Regions from separate parts of the Homo sapiens genome. Here region 1 is linked to region 2. Evidence: fine-mapped expression QTL. A gene starts in region 2. The other region holds a variant in brackets. All regions are shown on one strand. Distances are from middle to middle. Region 1 has its middle 9.0 kb from the start of CFAP91. Region 2 holds the start of POPDC2 (popeye domain cAMP effector 2).

Evidence for each region. PIP is the estimated chance that this variant, and not a neighbour inherited with it, causes the effect.
Region 1: its variant is the best candidate, but not a certain one, in a credible set for the expression of POPDC2 in whole blood (INTERVAL, PIP 0.74).

What each region holds. Positions count from the first base shown.
Region 1 is chr3:119,689,206-119,698,768 of GRCh38, forward strand. No RefSeq gene overlaps it. Among named protein-coding and RNA genes, the nearest start is that of CFAP91, 9.0 kb to the right of the region's middle. RefSeq lists an enhancer at 8,294-8,343. The variant C/T (reference allele first, on the strand shown) is at 4,459.
Region 2 is chr3:119,655,541-119,665,103 of GRCh38, forward strand. POPDC2 (popeye domain cAMP effector 2) reads right to left here and starts at 5,049. Exons shown (of 4, transcript NM_001369919.2): 1 at 4,393-5,049. The coding sequence starts at 4,883. It also overlaps a transcript of COX17 not described here. RefSeq lists an enhancer at 7,304-7,353.

The DNA of each region.
Region 1 (9,563 bases), 34 kb after region 2:
GTAGAATTCATAATGCACCCTCAATCAAAATCCAAATTGATTCAACCAAGCCTTTGCCTAGTATTAAACAATATTCCTTAACCAAACTGCCTTAGACCCAATATTGAAGAATACAAAACTCAAGGCCTAATAATTCCCTGTATCAGCCCCTAATACTTCCACCCTCCCAGTAAGAAAACCTAATTGTTGAGGATGGAGAGTTGTTCAGGATCTCCATGCCATAAATAATATTGTTATACCCTGTCACCTCATGGTCCAAAATATACATACTTCTGTTCCCAAATCCACATACTGCTGACTTCTATACCTACTGATAGTGAATTTTCACTGTTATTGACCTCTGTAGTGTCTTCTTCAGCATCCCTGTTGATCAAACTAGTCAATATCTGTTTGCCTTTACGTGGAAAGGACAACAATATACTTGGACTGTTTTGCCTCAGGGCTATATGGAAGGCCCTTCCTACTTTTCTCAAATTCTGAAAGCTAATTTACAAAATGTGGCTTTTCTTCAAGGCTCACCCTTACTGAAATATGTAGGTAATTTATTTCTTTGTTCTTTCTCACGCAGGTAGCCTGTGAGATAGACAGTGTGCATCTTCTAAAACTTCTTGCCACAAAAAAATCATAAGGTTTCTAAGAAAAAATATAACTATAGTTAAGACCCAAGCTAAATATCTAGGTCATCTGACTTCTTGAACATGACTACGTTTGGGCCCTGAACAGATCCAAGGTGTCCTGCAGTTCCCCAAATCTAAAATGAAATGGCAACTCAGAGAGTTTCTTAGACTTGCTGGATACTGCAGTAACTGGATACCAAACTTTTACTTAATTGCTCAACCCCTGTACACCCTACTCAAGACCTCTAAAACCGATCCCATTGTTTGAGAAGAATCTAAAAATATTGCATTTACTAAATTAAAGAAAGAATTATTAAACCCCCCATACTCTGAGACATCCCAATTATCCACTCCTTATTTTCCTTTTTGTTTATGAAAAAAGGGAAATTCCTTGGGCGTCTTAACTAAAAAAATCATTGAGAGTAACACTGCCCCCAGTGGATATTACAGCCAATAACTAGATCCAGCGGCTTGGGGATTATGCTCCTGTTTGGGAACTATTCCAGCTACTGCTCTACTAGTTATAGCTATAGAATAAATAATCATGAGATCTCCTTTGACCACTTTTGTTCCCCATTCTGTTGAAGCTCTTAAATTCCCATCATACCCAACACCTTTCTACCAGTTGTCTTAGCATTTATGAACTTCGTTTACTAGCTGCTCCTCACATAACTTTCTCTCTGTAACAATCTTAATCCTGCATCTCACCCCTTCTTTCTGATGAAACCCCCCATGAGTGTTTGACCCTCACTATCTTTTGATTCCCCAGAAAGATTTGCAATATAGTCCATTGGACAATGCTGAACTATCATTGTTTACAAATGGATCATATTTAAAGGATGACACTGGCAAAGAGTGTGCAGGATATGCAATTATTACCTTTTTTTGAAGTATCTGAGGCTAGCTTCCTACCTGTGGCTACTTCTGTCAAACAGGCTGAGCTTTTGCCCTTACTTGGGCTTGCCTCCTTGCTAAAGGGAAATCTACTAATCTGTATTTACAGGCAGTAGGTATGCTTTCGAGGTTGCTCATGATTTGGGGATGTTATGGAAATAATAGGTTTCCTCACTTCCATGGGAGGCCAAATTACAAATGGATCCTACACACAAGACTTACTGGATATCATCTAGCTACCAGCTGCTTTGGCTATTATCTAATTTTCTGTACATTCAAATCTACATTTTTATGGAGATGAGAGTAAACCGCTTTGCTAATAATGCAGCAAAGAATGCTGCCATTAAAGGTTCATTTGATCAAATCTCTGTTATGGCCCTACTAAAAGAACTTTCAACAAATGATTTAAGAATAATTATCAAAGAGGCCAGGCACAGTGGCTCATGGCTGTGCACTTTGGGAGGCCGAGGCAGGTGGATTGCTTGAGTCCAGGAGTTAGAGACCAGCCTGGGCAACATGACAAAACCCCATCTCTACAAAAAAACACACTCAAAAAATTATCTGGGCATGGTGGTGTGCTTCTGTAGTCTCAGCTACTCAGAAGGCTGAGGTAGGAGGATCTCCTGAGCTCAGGGATGTAGAAGCTGCAGTGATCCATGATCAAGCCACTGCACTCCAGCCTGGGTGACAGAATGAGACCCAGAAAAAAAAAAAAGAACAATTACCAAAGATGCACAGAATTGGGCCTCAGAAGTCAAAAAACAAAACTGAAGTCAAAAAAACAAAACAGGGCTGGGCACAGTGGCTCACAACTGCAATCCCAGCATTTTGGGAGGCTGAAGTGAGTGGATCACCTGAGGTCATGAGTTCAAGACCAGCCTGGCCAATATGGCAAAACTCTGTCAAAATACAAAAAAATTAGATAGGCTTGGTGGCATGCACCTGTAATCCTGGGCTACTCAGGAAGCTGAGGCACAAGAATCGCTTGAGCCTGGGGAGCAGAGGATGCAGTGAGCCGAGATCTTGCTACAGCACTCTAGTCTGGGCGACAGAGTGAGACTCCTCTGTCTCAAACAAAACAAAACAAAACAAAACAAAACAGGCTGGGTGTGGTGGCTCACCCCTGTAGTGCACTTTGAGAGGCCAAGGTGGGAGAATTGCTTGAGGCCAGGGATTCAAGAGCAGCCTCCCAATACAGTGAGACCCTGTCCCTACAAAAAAATGAGAAAATTAGCCAGGTGTGGTGAGGTGTGCCTGTAGTCCCAGCTACTTAGGAAGCTGAGGCAGGAGTATTGTTTGAGCTTAGGAGTTTGAGGATGCAGTGAGACATGATCACACTGCACTCTAGCCTGGGTGGCAGAGTGAGACCCTATCTCAAAAACAACAATGAAACCGAAAAAGGACCATGATTTCTGGTTTGATGAGCAAAAGGAACTCTGATCGGGACCTGAGAACAAACCAGTTCTCCCAGATTCAAGGAAATATCCACTATTAACTACAGTACATAATTTGATTCATTAGGCAACTGACATTAATTTCTTCCAGAAAACAATATTGGTGGGGTGGGGAAATATTTTAAAAGCCACTAAAATGCTTATTTGACTTTTACCACCTGTCCTAAATTTAACCAAGGAAAATCTGTATAGACTCCTCCTTGACATTTAAATTTACCTAATAGGCCATTCAAGGTTTGGCAACTGAATTTTTTCCAACTACCTCCCTCCCATGAGTATACATATATATTGGTTATGATCTGTATGTTTTCCCATTGGGTGGAAGGCTTTCTTTTAGATAAGCTACTGTTTTAGCTATGGCCAAACTTTTCTTTGAAAAAAATTATTCCTCTTTGGGGAACTCCCCTTGAGCTTCATAGTAACCAGGGAACCCACTTTACTGGCCACATGGACTTCTTATTATGCTTACCATCTTATAGGACTTATATTGTTCTTACCATCCCCAATCTTCTGACCTGGTAGAATAAACAAATGGAACCATAAAGACTCAGTTGGCAAAATGTATGGAAAACTTGCACCTCCCTTAGTTTAAAGTTCTTCTCTTGGTATTATTACTGAGAACCACTGCTTTTAGAGCCCACAAATTTTCATCTTTTGAAATAATCACTGGTCATCCTATGCATTTAATGCCCACTGCCTTTGACCCTCAATTGTTAAAAGGAGAGATACTATAATACTGTAAGGGAATTATTACAGTAGTAGACAAATATTATATTTTGGTAGAAAAATCTTTCCACAGTGTGCTCCTGGAGGACAAAGACCTAAAGCACCAAGACCTAAAGCTACAACCTGGTGATTCTGTCTATCTTGAAAAGACACCTATATGAAGACTCTCTCCAACCTCATTGGAAGGTCCCATACCAAGACCTTCTCACCAATCCCTGTATCACCAAACTCAAAGGCATTGACTCATTGATCCACATCTCTCATTTTAAAAGGGCTTCTACTTCTGCCTGGACCGGTACCCCAGCAGGCAATTTAAAGTTTATCTGTTATCTGAAGCAGACAACAATTGAAATAAACTGCTATTCACAAGACGTCCAGACCAGGCCAATATACCCTTTTCCTTTTACTATTGGTCTCTTCTTATGTGCTTTTATTTTCCTGGAAAAATAAGGCTCTAATTTGCATTTTCTAATCTATTTCCAAAATGAGAAACATAACCGATTTATTGGATTTGGTACCAAAAAAACTTCAATCTCCATGATGCAAGTGAACCCCTGGTCTAACTCATAATGGATTTTTTTTTTTTTTTTTGAGATGGAGTCTTGCTCTGTTGCCCAGGCTGGAGTGCCGTGGTGTGACCTTGGCTCACTGCAACCTCTGCCTCCTGGGTTCAAGCGATTCTCCTGCCTTGGCTTCCTGAGTAGCTGGGATTACAGGCGCACCACCAGGCCCAGCTAATTTTTGTATTTTTAGTAGAGACGGGGTTT[C/T]ACTGTGTTGGTCAGGCTGTTCTCAAACTCCCGACCTTGTGATCTGCCCACCTTGGTCTCCCAAAGTGCTGGGATTACAGGTGTGACCAGCGGTGCCCAGCCCTCAGAACAGATTTTACTGATATTCCCCATGTAACTGTTCTAATTATACATCTAGTCCTTTTTACAAGGTCAAGCTTTTAGACTCACATATTCAGATTTCCTGTTTCACCCTAACATTACCTAAGATCTACAAAAAAGGCCTTGAAGTTAGATTAAGATTATGCAAACAACATGCTGATAGAATTCAAGAGAAAAGAAATTTGACAGCTTATAAAAATATTTATGACCTTCCTCCTCTAATTGTTGATGACTTCCAACAGTGCAATAATTCAATAATAGAACCCTGGATAATTACTGTTGACACCTCCCTACAAGTAACTGTTAATGCACAAGGTACTCCATCTACGTGGAATTACCTGTTGTGACACATCGAGATACATTTTCATCTGTGGGGGAGCCTACAGTCAGCTTTATTCATGGGCAACATCATGTCTCAATAAATGGAAAATAAAGCACCAATGTGGTCTGGGATATTTCTACATTCAATTTAAACTTGCAAAATCTGAACATTGGTTGACATCTACTAACTTGCACCATCATATCAAAAAAGACACTCTACCTAGAGGCATAAACTCAGCAGGATGGGCCTCAGTTGTTAGATCCTTCTTCCTCTGGATTGGGGTTAGTACCTTAGAAATAATGGTTAGAAATTTATCCCTAACTATTGGAGCTCCAGCTGACTCCACAGCCAAAGCCATGGCAGCTCACCAAACTTCCTTAGATTTTCTTGCCAAAGTGGTTTTCGATAACAGGATTGCTCTAGATTGCTTATTAGCTGAACAAGGTGGTATTCGTGCAATTGCTTACACTAGCTGCACATGGAAGTAGAAAACACAATTATGAAAGATAACGGAACATGCCACCTGGCTCCAGAAAGTTCCACCCAATGCATTTGGACTTTTCAATCTGTTTAGTGACTTACCTTCAAAATAAGATTCATGGTTTAGAGCTATTTTTCAAACTGAATTCATGATACTATTGCTGCTTATTCTTGACATTATGATAGTTAAGTTACATTATTGTTGCCTGTCTAATCTTTGCAAAGCCTGCTTTCCCAACAGGAAAATGTTAGTCCAGTGCTTCCAGATGATTGCTAATGCCTGTGTAACTGATAAGATGGAATCCAATGCTGAATCTCAGGTAGACCTATCCTGTAAGGGTCTTTCCTTCCGGCCCCTTTGTTGTCCAAATGTGACTTGGGCCTCTAATGTTGACTCCTATTGACTCCTATTTTCCCTCTAGTGTGGGGTCAGAACAACTAGGACAAAGCACATCCCGGCATTGAGGGAGATCAAGCCTAACTTCAAGGATAGTTGACCAGTGATGCTTTCAGGGAAAGATCTTAGTCAAAAAAGGGAAATGTGGGCGCGGGGGCTCACGTCTGTAATCTCAGCACTTTGGGGAGGCTGAGGCGGGTGCATCATTTGAGGTCAGGAGTTCGAGACCAGCCTGGCCAACATGATGAAACCCCGTCTCTACTAAAAATACAAAAATTAGCCTGAAGTGGTTGCACATGCCTGTAATCCCAGCTACTCGGGAGGCTGAGGCACAAGAATTGCTGGAGGCTGGAAGGCAGAGGTTGCAGTGTGCCGAGATGGCGCCACTGCCCTCCAGAGTGGCCAACAGGGCAAGACTCCGTCTCAAAAAAAAAAAAAAAGGTGGGGGGGTGGCAGGGAGCAGAATGTGAAAGTTGATTATCTAAATGGAGTCATACCTGTCATACCCAACTAAAATTTACAGTGCAGGGTGGGGGGGCATAGAGAAAAAACAAAAATGAAAACAAAACTCAGGTCTCAAAAGCCTGCTCCAGAAACTGTCCAGTAAGCCCAATTCAACGAAACAGCTGCTACAGTTTTAAGACTAGTTTTACAAGGAAACAGCCACCATGACTTTAAAACTAGTTTTACCTAGAAATTGTGGCCACTGACCAATCAGAGCTCACCAGCTCCTGCAAAAAACATGTTGCAAGCACCAAAGAGCTTTCTTTCATAACAACCCACATACTCTTTCTCCTTTCCCAATAAAACCTTCACCATTTTTTTGTTCTACCACATATCAGAGACCACCCTGGTCTACGCATGTGTACCAGATTGCAACCCTATTTCTTTATTCCAAAATAAACCCTCTTTTGCTTGGAGATTCATCTCTCTATATATTTGTTATTGATAGAAGATAAAAAGCTAATAAGAGACTGTGTGAACATACACACAAATGAATAAAAGTTGGTGAACTACCTAAAATAAATGAGATCAAGCCTGTGTATTTTTGTCTTTAGCTTCCGGTTGGGAAGAATTTCTTCCTTTCTATAGCTGTGAGACCATCAACCAAAATTCAGAACAAACTCCAATAAGTTGCAAAACACTGATCAAAATCAAATGCTCACTGCAGCCTCAAAATCCTGGGCTCAAGCTATCCTCCCACCTCAGCCACTGAGTAGCTAGGACTACAGGCGCATGACACCACGCCCAGCTAATTTTGTTGCTGTTGTTGTTGTAGAGAGAGGATCCCACTATGTTGCCCAGCGTGGTCTCAAACTCCTGGCTTCAAGTGATCCTCTTGCCTCAGCCTCCCAAAGTACTGGGAATACAGGCATGAGCGACCATACCTGGCCTAAATGCTCTCTCTCTCTCTCTATATATATATATATATATACTAACCTGTAAATTTAAAATTTCACCTAATGAGCCAGCTTAAACTGGAAATTTTGTTTTCTAATAACATTTGTTTTTTCTGATTGAACTGATGTTTTCCAACAGTAGCAAAAGCTGATGTATAGCATTTAGAAGCTAAATGTAACTACCATGTAATGTAGTAGTAAATGTTACTATGTAATAGTTACATAGTAACTAATAGTATGTATTAGTAGTACACAGTACTAATACTGCTGATACTACTGCTAGTACTATGTAACTGGTAGTTACATAGTAGTTACATTTTGCTACTAAATGTAACTGAATAGCATTTAGCTACTAAATTTATATATTTAAATCCATGTTTACTTACATTTAGCTACTAAATGCTATTCAGTTAGTAGTGAAATGTAAATATGTGTTTAAGTATATGAATTATATCTTTAACAGTCATGCCTATTCTTTAGCCCTACATTTGCCCTTTGTATTCTTACATATTTTAAGATGAATATCAGATGTAGTTCTAGGTAAATGGGAAGCTCATGATGCACGAAGACAGAAATGGAGAAATTGAGAAGATTTATGAAGCTAGGTAGTATTATAACATTTATCGGACACTCGCTATCTAACAGACTGTGTTCTAAGTCCTTTGTAGGTGTTACCTCCCATAATTTTCCCTGATATTATTGCTGTTTGTTCTCATTTTAGTGTTTTGGAAACTGATGCATGTGGATATTAAGTAAATGCCGAAGATCACACGAACTGTTTTAGAACAAAGATTCAAACTTAGGAAATCTGATTCTAATGTTCACGTAGTTAATCACTGTATTAGAGTTTCTGCAGTGTACGGAAGTGTTAGTTTTACTGAGGATGTATTGAGTTTGTCTAGTAGATGTTTGGTCATTTGAAATGGAATATCTTAAAGATTGTGAAGGTATGAAATTGGCAGTGAGACAGAAGTGAAAGTCACTGATGGCAGACAGGTAAATACATGAATAATTCAGTAGCTCAATTCATTCCAATGTATTTTCCTTTAGCACCTGCTTTGTGCCAGGTGCTGGTGTAACTACCCAGTGAGTTCTCCTTGCTCGCTGGCTAGACAGAGTCAGTTTATAAGATAGGGGAACTGCAATAGAAAAAGAGTTTAATTCACACAGAGCCAGCTGTACAAGAGACTGGAGTTTTGTTATTACTCCCCAAACGCTTGGAGGTTAGGGGTTTTTCGGAGACAGTGTGGAGGGCAAGGGGGGTATGGTAGGGGGCATGGCATACTAATTGGCTGGGTTGGAGATGACACCATAGGGAATTGAAGCTGTCCTCTTGGGCTGAGTCAGTTCCTAGGTGGAGGACGACAGGACTCGTTGGCAGGTCCAGGTGGGGCCATCTGGTTGTCAGAAATGCAAAGGCCTAAAAAGATACCTCAAAAGGCCAGTCTTAGGTTCTATAATAGTGATGTTATCTTCAAGAGTAATTGGGGAAGTTGCAAATCTTATGACCTCCGAAAAAATGGCTGGTAATTATTTATAATTCAGGCCCCTTTCATCCTAACTTTGTGGACTTTCACTCATTTTATAAAAATAGTTTAGTTTTTGGGAGGGGCTATTATCATTTAAACTATAAACTAGGCCAGGCACGGTGGCTCACGCCTGTAATCCCAGCACTTTGGGAGGCCCAGGCAGGTGGATCACCTGAGATCAGGAGTTCAAGACCAGCCTGGCCAACATGGCTAAACCCTGTCTCTACTAAAAAATACAAAAAATTAGCTGGGTGTGGTGGTGGGCACCTGTAATCCCAGCTACTCAGGATGCTGAGGCAGGAGAATCACTTGAATCTGGGAGGTGGAGGTTGCAGTGAGCCAAGATTGTGCCACTGCACTCCAGCCTGGGCAACAGAGCAAGACTCCATCTCAAAACAAAAACAAAAAACAAACAAACAAAAGTATACTCTAAATTTCTCCCAAAGTTAGCTTGGCTCATGTCCCAGAATGAGCAAAGACAGCCAACCTGTGAGGCTAGAGTCAAGATGGACTCAGCCATGTCAGATTTTTCTCACTGTCATAATTTTCTCAGTTATAATCTTTTGCAAAGGTGGTTTTACTGGCCTAAGAGATATGGATGAATTCAGGGTGAACAGGACATTTGAGGTCTCTGGTCTCACAGAGCTTACATTCTAGTGGGAGGAGATATAATAAATAAGCAAATCAGTAACATTTCAGTGCTATAAAAAAAATCAAGGTAATAGTGTCTTCGGATGTGTTTATGGAGGCTGCTGGCTGTTGACTACCTTAGATAGTTTATCTGATAGAATGAGGAAAAGAAGTCTTTCTTCTTCTTCTTTTCTTTCTTTTTTTTTTGAGACAGAGTCTTGCTCTTG
Region 2 (9,563 bases):
TCTCCCTTCCCATTAGCTACATGAAGATTCATGCTTACATTTAACCACTTTGTAGACTTTGAAGGAAGTGGCAAGTCTACCATATGCCAGACTCTGCTAGACACTTTACCAGTGTTCTCTTATATAATGTTCACAACACCACAAGGTAGATTATTCTTTTCTGTATTTTATAGCTAAGGAAACTGGTGCTCAGAAGGGTTGAGTGGCGAGCTTAAGGCTACATAGCGATCAAGTGGCGGAACTAAAATTCTATGTTCTTAGCACAACACCATGTTGCCACCCTATTACTACAGCTTTGGGTAGATGGTAGTGGACTCTCCTAGCATGACCCTTTCCCGGACCTCTCTAACCGTAGGTGACAATAACAGCTTGTTTCTTTAGACAATGAGATCCCATGCACCCTATCCAGCTGATGGTCCTAGAGTGAACACCTGACTCAAGCTGAGCCAATCAAACTCCTTCCCTGGGAATTTGGAAATGGAATTGCGTGTAAATCATGCCTTGGATGGGGACAATTATCAGGCATTATTAACAAAACTAACACACTCCTCCCTGAAGGAACTAAAAAAAATTTTTTTTTATCACGTAACTCAGACTTTGAAAAGCATGGGTCCCAATTGGCTATAGAGAAAATAAACTTGAAATCACATAAAATGTCCTAGTAGGACATGTTCTTGTTTCTAGCACTACCTGAGGCTTAGGTGCATGTCTTTCCTTGAGTTTCATAAGAAATCCTTGTATTTTTTTAAATAAAGACCTTTTTTCCCCCTTCTGTTGGCTAGAGTGGGTTACTGTGGCTGCAGCCAGAAATCCGAATTATTTGCTTTAATTTTATGAATATTCTTAAGTCTTAAGTCTTAAGTCATTAACTGCTCTTGACTTGCCCATGACCACAGGCTTGGTTTCACAACTTAAGGGGTTAGGAGCCTTACTATTGCTGCTTGGTGCCTTTGTACCCTTGTGGCTGTACCTAGCCTAGTGCTCTGCCCCTGCAGGGTAAAAAGACTGCATTCCATGAGAACTTGTTAGAACTGATGGCATGTCATTGATGATGCCTGAGGACAGGGAGTGTATTTCAGATGTGAGGCCACATCTGGAAGAAGATTAGAATCCAGTATGGGCTTTATCCTTCCCCCAACCCGACCCCTGCCCAGAAAACTCAGAGTTTCATCTTTAACCTCTCTTCTAAAGTGAGTTATATCAGGCAATAGGGGTGCCTCTATTAGGCAAAGGGGGAAGATGAAAAAGATCTCTAAGGTACACCTTGTTCATTTGGGGGAGATATCCTTCCATTATTTCTGGAGGTTTATTGGCTAAACAAATATTTCTGGAGCATCTCTCATGTTTCTGGAGATCTGGGAATGCAGAGATGGGCACAATCTGGTCTTTGTCTTTGAGGATTTCACAATTTAGTGGAAGTCACAGGCACATAAATAACTGGCTGCAAGTCAATGTGATAGGTGCTATTGTGGAACAGTAACAGAGGAGAGAGAAAGATTGGTTCTCTTTGGGCAGCAGACCTCTCGAAGGAGATGACATTTGAGCTGAATTTTGAGGGATGCAAAGGGTATTGAGAAGCAGATAAAGATGAGAATGAACAAAGACCTGGGAAATCCAGTGTGGCAGTCTGTTCTCCAGTATCTGCTTTCTTCTCTTCCTTAATGGTGCTAGATTTTAACTGGACACATGACTGCAGAGAAAAAAATCAACATTTCTCTACTTCCCTGGCTGCTAGGCATAGGCAAGTGATAAGTCCTGGCCAATGGGATATCAGCACTCCTGAGCCTTGCTCTTAATGAATGCCTAGGTATACATGCGTGTATACAAATTACCAAAGACCAGCACCAATTAAAAAAACAATTGCACCTATTATCTGACAACCTAAAGCTGGAAGACAGGAGCTTTATTCAAGACTCTGAATAAATATGTATGGAAGGGGGAAAAGAAGGAAAGAAGGAAGCAAGAAAGTAAGGATGAATAAATGAACAAAGGAAACCAAGGAACAAACTCACTTGTGTCACCATAAAAGGGGATCAAAACCTCACTGAAAAGCTTCCATAGCAAAGGAAGACAGCAGAAGAGAATGGCGCTGCTGCAGCATATGTCAGCTCCTTAGGCGAGGATTTCGGCCACCCAGGCAAGCCACCAAAGAGTGACAACCGTAGAGTGTAGATAATGTCTAATGATCTTCGTGGCTCGCTGAAGCCATTTAAATCGGAATGCTGTGCCCTTTATCATCTGTTTCTTCTTCCTTCTTGATCTACTGGAAGATGGATGATCTTCTCCTAAATGAATAGCTTAGATAGTTAGTTGCCTGCTCAGGGGGTTGTATATATGGAAGTTTGTGTTTTGAATTTTATATGAGAGAAACGTCTAAGTTAAGCGCTGCTTAACAGGGTGATAGACTTTGAGAAAGTCACTTTCCCTCTCTGAGTTTTGAAAGAGATTGGTTTCCTTTATTAAAACAAAACAAAAAGACTTCTGAGGTTTGAGTGAAGGACTCTAGAGAACAGTGTGCATGTGAGATGTGGAAGTCTGCACAAGAGTCCCCACTTCCTGGCACAAAGTTCTTGTCTGCTGCTTTGAGATGTTTGGTCCCTTACTGTAACCAGCCCAAGGTTCAGTGATTCTCCTTTAAAACTAGAGCCCAGTCATAGACTAGAAGCCTTTTCCTCTATGTCCAGCTCAGCAAAGCTGAGACAGGGTGACACTGAAAGATAACAAAACTCTTACTCCAAACCTTGAAAGGCAGGAAAAAAAAAAATCAAAATTGTCTAATTTCTGACTCAGCCTTTTGATGCTAAGTATACCAGGAAAAGCTACACCAAGGGCAAGCCCCCCTCTCCCCTTCACTGGGAAGTGATCTTATACAAGTTCACAGTAAATCTATCCTAACTGAACTATACAGTAACCATACATGCTTCCAGCAAATGGGCACCCTACACTGGAGGGAGCACTTCTGCTGCTCTCAATTTCCTCCTTTGAACAGACGAGCTATAACATCATGGGTCTCATGAATGAGCAAGTTCCCTAAATTGTCTTTAAGCATGGAACTATAGGTGCAAACATTTTCACAATAGTTATATGTATTTGTATTTACATCTATATCTGTTTACAAATAATCGCATTGGTTTACACTTTCAGTTCACCAATAAATGAAATGAAATGTACCCTCACAAAATGTCTCCCCTCCTAGCTCACTCTATCCAGGACCTCTGAGTTCAAACAAAATCAAAACATATATACATGATACTTCAGGTTCTATAAATGAATACACAAACACGTATTATTACTATTAGTGGTAGTTGTAGTACCATTAGCATCATTGTCAAACTTTTTTCTCCATTGTGTGGTTGGCAGTATTATCTGGATTTGCTTTTTTTTTTTTTTTTTCTTGGAATTGGAGCCTTCTAATTGCCATCTTACCTTTTCTATCACATTCTCCTGGTCTCAAGAAAGCTGGTGGAGTGGGGGTTGTGGGGCTCAAGAGCCACTAGGGCAGTATAAAAAAATCCACAATTGCCTACTAAGTGTGTAGCACAGAGCCCCGTGATGTTTTCTCAGAAGAAATCAATGCCCAACATTCACATCCAGGTTGACTGGGCATACACTGATCCTGACTAAGACCATTTCTGCCCATATCTGACTGTCAGCCTTCTCCAAAAGAGGCGGTGCTTCCACAAAAGCCTTGATGAGATAGGTGTATCACTTCTCTTCTCCCATTGTTGGGCCCTCAGATTTACAGTACTGTACTTGACTTCTTAGTCTTCAAGAACCTCAATAGAACAACTGGAAATGGAAAGGTGGGCAAGGGGTATTCACTCTCCCTACCTGGCTACATACAGCTACCCCAAACACAAGTGGGGCTGTTTGCTTGATGCCTTGGCAGGGAACAGGGGTTATGAGAACCACCCCGCTATCCCGACCTCCCATTTCTGGCATTGTTCCCTGAATACAGTTGGTGCTTAGCAAATGTTGAATTTGAGTAAGGAACAGATTAACCTTATTGAAATGTTAGTTTTTCAAAGCTTACAGAGATATTGCTGCAGCTTAGGCATGACACACTGATATGTGTGTGGTGATGGTAGAGGGGTTATTTAAGGCCCAGGCTCAAGACACACGCACTGCACACCTTCCAGCAGCAAGTGCACATACAATCATTCTTGCCAACCAAGATGCCTCATGAACTGGTTTCTTCTTGGAAAATGCCAAGAAAGAGGAAGCAACCCCACTCTTAGAAAAATCTATTTTGGTTTGTTTGACTTGTCACATCCTTCCCTCAATGGAAGGGGACACGAAATGGAAAGGGACATGAAATGGAAAGGGACACACTAGGAAATGAGAAGTGTGGGCTGGGGAAAGAAATTCTGGGCAATGGATAGAGTAGCTTACCGGCCAGAGAGCAGCAGGGACAGGCGGTTGATGGGTGTCTCACCCTCCACAGCATAGGTCTGTTCAGTGGCCAGAGTTAAGACCTGCTCCTCGCAGCAGTGAACAATCTCCTTGTATGTCTGTAGGGGCACCTGCAAGGGCAGGCACAGCGTCTTGTAGAGGAGGTCAAACTCCTCAGGGAGGGTGTCCTCACGCAGGCGGTATACCAGGTGTGCCAGCTGGAGCAGGCAGACCACAGCCAGCAGGAAGCTCCAAAGAACAATGTCCAGGCCACAGGCACTGAACCAGCCCCACAGCACGCAGCACAGGTAACCTGCACTCAGGAAGCCAAAAAGATAGAAGCATCCATACACCCCACTGCCCCCCATGAAGCCCAGGAGTAAGAGGCAGTTGGCTAGGTGGTAGACAGCCCCTTCCACATCCTGCTTCCACCTAATGCACGCTGAACCCTGCAAGAGAAGCTGGCCCACTCTGCTGCTGTTGGCGCTCATCTTTGGGGCCTCTCAAAGCCTCACTGGGCTCTAATACTGTCCTCACATAGGAAATTCAGAAAATGAATGAATCCATCCGCTCAGGGGTCTTCTCACCTCCGGCTTCTCACTACCGACTCCACCTTTCCTAGAAGGAATGCTTCCGGTGGCTTTGGGAAGGAATGATGGAACATAGTACACTTCATGGAGAATTTAAAAACCTCTTTCTCTCTCTCTCTCTCTCTCCCCCTCTCCCCCCCTCTCTCCTCCCCACCACCCCCGCTGTCTCAGCAAGGCTCTGGCTCTCCCTGCAGAGCTCTGGCAAGCTTCCTTGGTTCCATGTTTCTTGGGAGTCTTCAAATTTGGTTCTTAGCAGAAAAACCTAAATAGTCCCAAGGGAAAGTAGCACTACAGGACTGAAAAGTCCAGCAGCGTGGGATGATGCGGCCACATCCTGCTCTCTGTTTTTCCCAAGCAGAATGAGGAGAGCCAGCATGGGAGGCACATTTGTGTTCCATTTGGAATGTGTTCTCTCTTGGCACCGGAAGAAAGGGTGACCCCAGATGGATACCATGTTTGGAATTGGAATCCAAGAGGTACTGGCAGTGAGAAAAAACAGGCCAGGCACAGGCAGCCTGGCAGAGCACTTAACATACCTCCCAGAGGACAAGATAAGACCTCAGGGTCAGAGAGACAGACAAGGAGAGAGAAAGGAAAAGTGAGCACAGAATTCACCTGAACACCTCAGGCAGGAAACTGTCCCGAGCTCCCTTTGGGGAGAGCCAGACAGTGCTTCTGAGTGAGGACACATCAGAGTAGGAAAGTATGGGACTATTATCAGAAAAAATCCTAACAGTGAAAGCTGGAAAACCCCCTGAAGGCCTTTATTAAGTCACACTGCAAATATCATTATGTATTTATTTGACATCCATTTAACAAAAGTAGCTATGTAAAGTGGCTTTTTGAATTCTAAGCTGGCTTTCCCCTGCATATATCTGGATCTGGTAATAGTAAACAAATAATAATACATTGCCCAGATCATCATCCCACCCACTCCGGTGCTTCCAAATTATAATTCCCACCTATTAAACACCCATGAAGTGCCAAACCTAGATTAGGCATTTTATACACTTATAAGTTAGTTGTGACAACAATCCTTCAAAATAAATATTATTCTCCTTCTAGATCTGGAAGAAACTGAGGCTCAGAGAGGTAACAAGCTCCCACAGATGGTCTAAGTGGCAGAGCCAGGATTTGAACCCAAGTCTGTCAAACTTAATACTCTGTCCCAAGGGGTTTGCCAGTAAGTGGAAGTACAGTACTAGATCCATGACTCCCAACTCCACACTTCTATGAAGTCTGACAATTTTCAAGGAACTTCTGGTTGAACCTAGGAATCTACTTTGGGCTGCCAAGAGATAAAGCTGGAGTATGCAAACATTAGGCTAAGAAATGTTAGTTGGGCACAGTGGCTTACGCCTATAATCGCAGCACTTTGGGAGGCTGAGGCGGGTGGATCACCTGAGTGAGGCTGGAGTTCGAGACCAGCCTGGCCAACATGGTGGAAACCCTGTCTCTACTAAAAGTATAAAAATTAGCTGGGCGTGGTGGCGGGCACCTGTAGTCTCAGCTACTGGGGAGGCTGAGGCACAAGAATCTCTTGAACCTGGGAGTCAGAGGCTGTGGTGAGCCAAAATTGTGCCACTGCATTCTAGCCTGGGTGACAGAGCAAGATTCTGTCAAAAAAAAAAAAAAAAGGAAGGAGAAGAAAGAAGGAAAGAAGGAAGGAAGGAAGGAAGGAAGGAAGGAAAGAAAGAAAGAAAGAAAGAAAGAAAGAAAGAAAGAAAGAAAGAAAGAAAGAAAGAAAGAAAGAAAGAAAGAAAAAGAAATGTGACTCTCTGGATTCCAAATGACTCCTTGATTCTTCCTCCCTGCTGCTGGGTTAGCACTTACTCCCATTACTCCTATCGCCCCTGAAGTACAGGCGGGGTGCTCAGTAACCTCCCAGAACTAATCAAGGACTCAATTCATAAGGACTTTTACTATACTGCTATAACTTGATGAAAATTTATGAGAAATTCAAAATTGTCAAATATGGTGAGAAGGAGATGTTTTCACTCAACAAATATTTATTGAGTGCCTTTTATGAGCTAAGCCCTTGGGCATCAAAGATCCTCAAGAGAAACTTTCACCCTGTTAGGGTAAAGAGACCTCAAAAAACAAAGGCAGTTCAGTATGTGAAGCACAACAACCAAGTTAACTTTGAAGGATGGTGGCAGCCTAGAAGGAAGGGTGGCATCAGGGAGGGAAGATGCAAAGAAGGGCTGGCCTCTAATTTGAGGTTTAGGGGTTGAATTCACCAGGCAGGTAGAGGGAGAATAGCATTTCTAGTGGGGAGAACAGCATTTCTAGTGGTGAGAACAGCAGAAGCACGGGCACAGAGGCATGAAAATGCATGGCATGTTGAAGGAAGCCAGTTTTTTCTTAACCTCATTAAAATCATCTGACCAACAAATATATACCTTATTTCCTCCTTTCTAAGTTAAGAGGAAAAAAATCAGTAAAGAGCTAGAGTATTTGGAGAAGAAATGTCACTGAGGTCACTCCATGGACATGATTTGGACCCCTGACATCATTTTAACAGTGGGGTTTGGGGATTTCCATATACTGTTTTTACATCACTTGCCTGCCTCCCAAACAACCCCCCTACTTTAACAAGCAGCAGCTGCTCATCCTTCTATCACAGACATGCAGCCCCTGAGCTTCCAGAGTAGCTGTCCCTGCCAGCTGTAAGCAGGGAAGTCAGAAGCATAGAAATGAAGAAGCAACCAAAGCTCTGCCCAAGATACAATTTCAAAGCAGCTCATCTTTCTTAGGAGACCTGCCAAATAGGTTGGCCCTGACCCATTAAAGAGACAGGCAGACCCATTAACTCTATGGTTCACTTGTCCTGCTGTCCAGACTGCACTCAGCCTGCTTTCCTGTCAATCCACATATGTGCTATCTCAGCAGAGGGGACTAACATTTATCAAGCAGCTATTGTTTTATGTTATCTTACTATACCTATTTTTTGTTTTAATAGAAGCAGCAGGCTCAGAGAGGCTAAGGAACTTGCCCAAGGTCACAAAGCTAGTCAGTATGTGAATAAGGATTAAAGCCTAGGTCAGTGTGTCTCTGAATTGTATATTCTCTACAGTATATTAATAACATCCTACCAGGTACTTTTGGGAGTTTACATGTGTGCATATACAAGCTCATCTATTGCTGCTGGAAATTTGAGTACATTGCCAGGGTGGCATACGTGTCAGAGAATCATGGGTGCATGTAATAGTGACATTACACTGCAGTAATAGTGGCCTGCAGTAATAGTGACATTGATGCCCACAGGATAGGACCTGTGATCAGAACACAACAATGAAAAGTTGTGTCTTGTGTAAGTCCAGATTTGATAGAAAAGGAAAGAAAAAATGTATTGTCTGTCAAAATGGTATGTTCTTATAAGGAAATACACAAACATGAAGGCAGAACACAATAAAAAACAACTGGGAAAGAAAAAAGGAAAGAAACATAAGTTTTCTCATTTGTTGAGCTGATTCAATTCAATAGGCATTTATTCAGGACAGACTATGTGTTCCAAGAACAGGGGATATAAAGATGAATAAGACAATTATCACTTCAAGAAACTTTCAGTCTATCCCGGATACTGACTCAGAAACTGTAATCCAATAAAATAAGTGTACTTAGGATTCAAAGAAAAAACACTTATGAGGGAGCAAATAATTCAATCCATAGGGACTTTTACTATACTGCTATAACCTAACTAAAATTCATGAGGTTGGGGGCGTGATGGCTTATGTCTATAATCCTAGTATTCTGGGAGGCTGAGATGGGAGGATCACTTGTGCCCAGGAGTTTGAGACCAGCCTAGGCAACATAGTGAGACCACTGTCTCTTAAAAAAATATTTTTTTCCACGAGAAAACATCACAGGGAAGGTGACTTTTAATCTGGTCTAAAAAGATGAGTAGGTTTTCCCCAGCTAGAGGAGGGCATTCCAGGAAGAAAGAACAGATTGTAAAGTCAGTCCCAGAAGTAAAACAAAATACGTGGCATATTCTGGTAACAGAGAACAGCTTGTTGTAGGTGAATCAAAAGGAGCAGCAGACAAGAGGCAGGCGAGGCAGGCGGGGGCCATCTTATGAAGTCACCAGAGTCAACAAGTGTGGTCATGAACTCAGCCTGGTCTTCAAACTGTTTGTTACTTGTCCATGCTGGTTCATGCTGGGGTAAGGACAGAAATTGTGACTTTAGACATTTTTTATAGCAATTTCACAGAGAAACTATGGCCTTTGAACTAACAAAAATTCTGGGTTTGTATAGCATATTTTTAAATCTATATGGGTTTATTTCATTTTCCTAGTGTTGGGTCTGTGATGAATTGAGGGGAAAAAAGCTGGTTCTTCACCACATACAGTTTGAGAAACACTGAGCTTGGGGTTAACACTTTCCTAGTATAGATACTAAAATAGAACAGAGGCATAATTTTATGCTCTGGACACATAGTGTCAAGTTGAACTTAAGCAGACACTATTGGTTGTCTTCCATAGCCATTTCCCCTTTTTCTTCAGTTTATGCAAATCTAATTTTGCTTGGGTAATATGTTAAGGAAGGTGGGCTTTTCCCCAAGTTGCCAGAGCCTGAA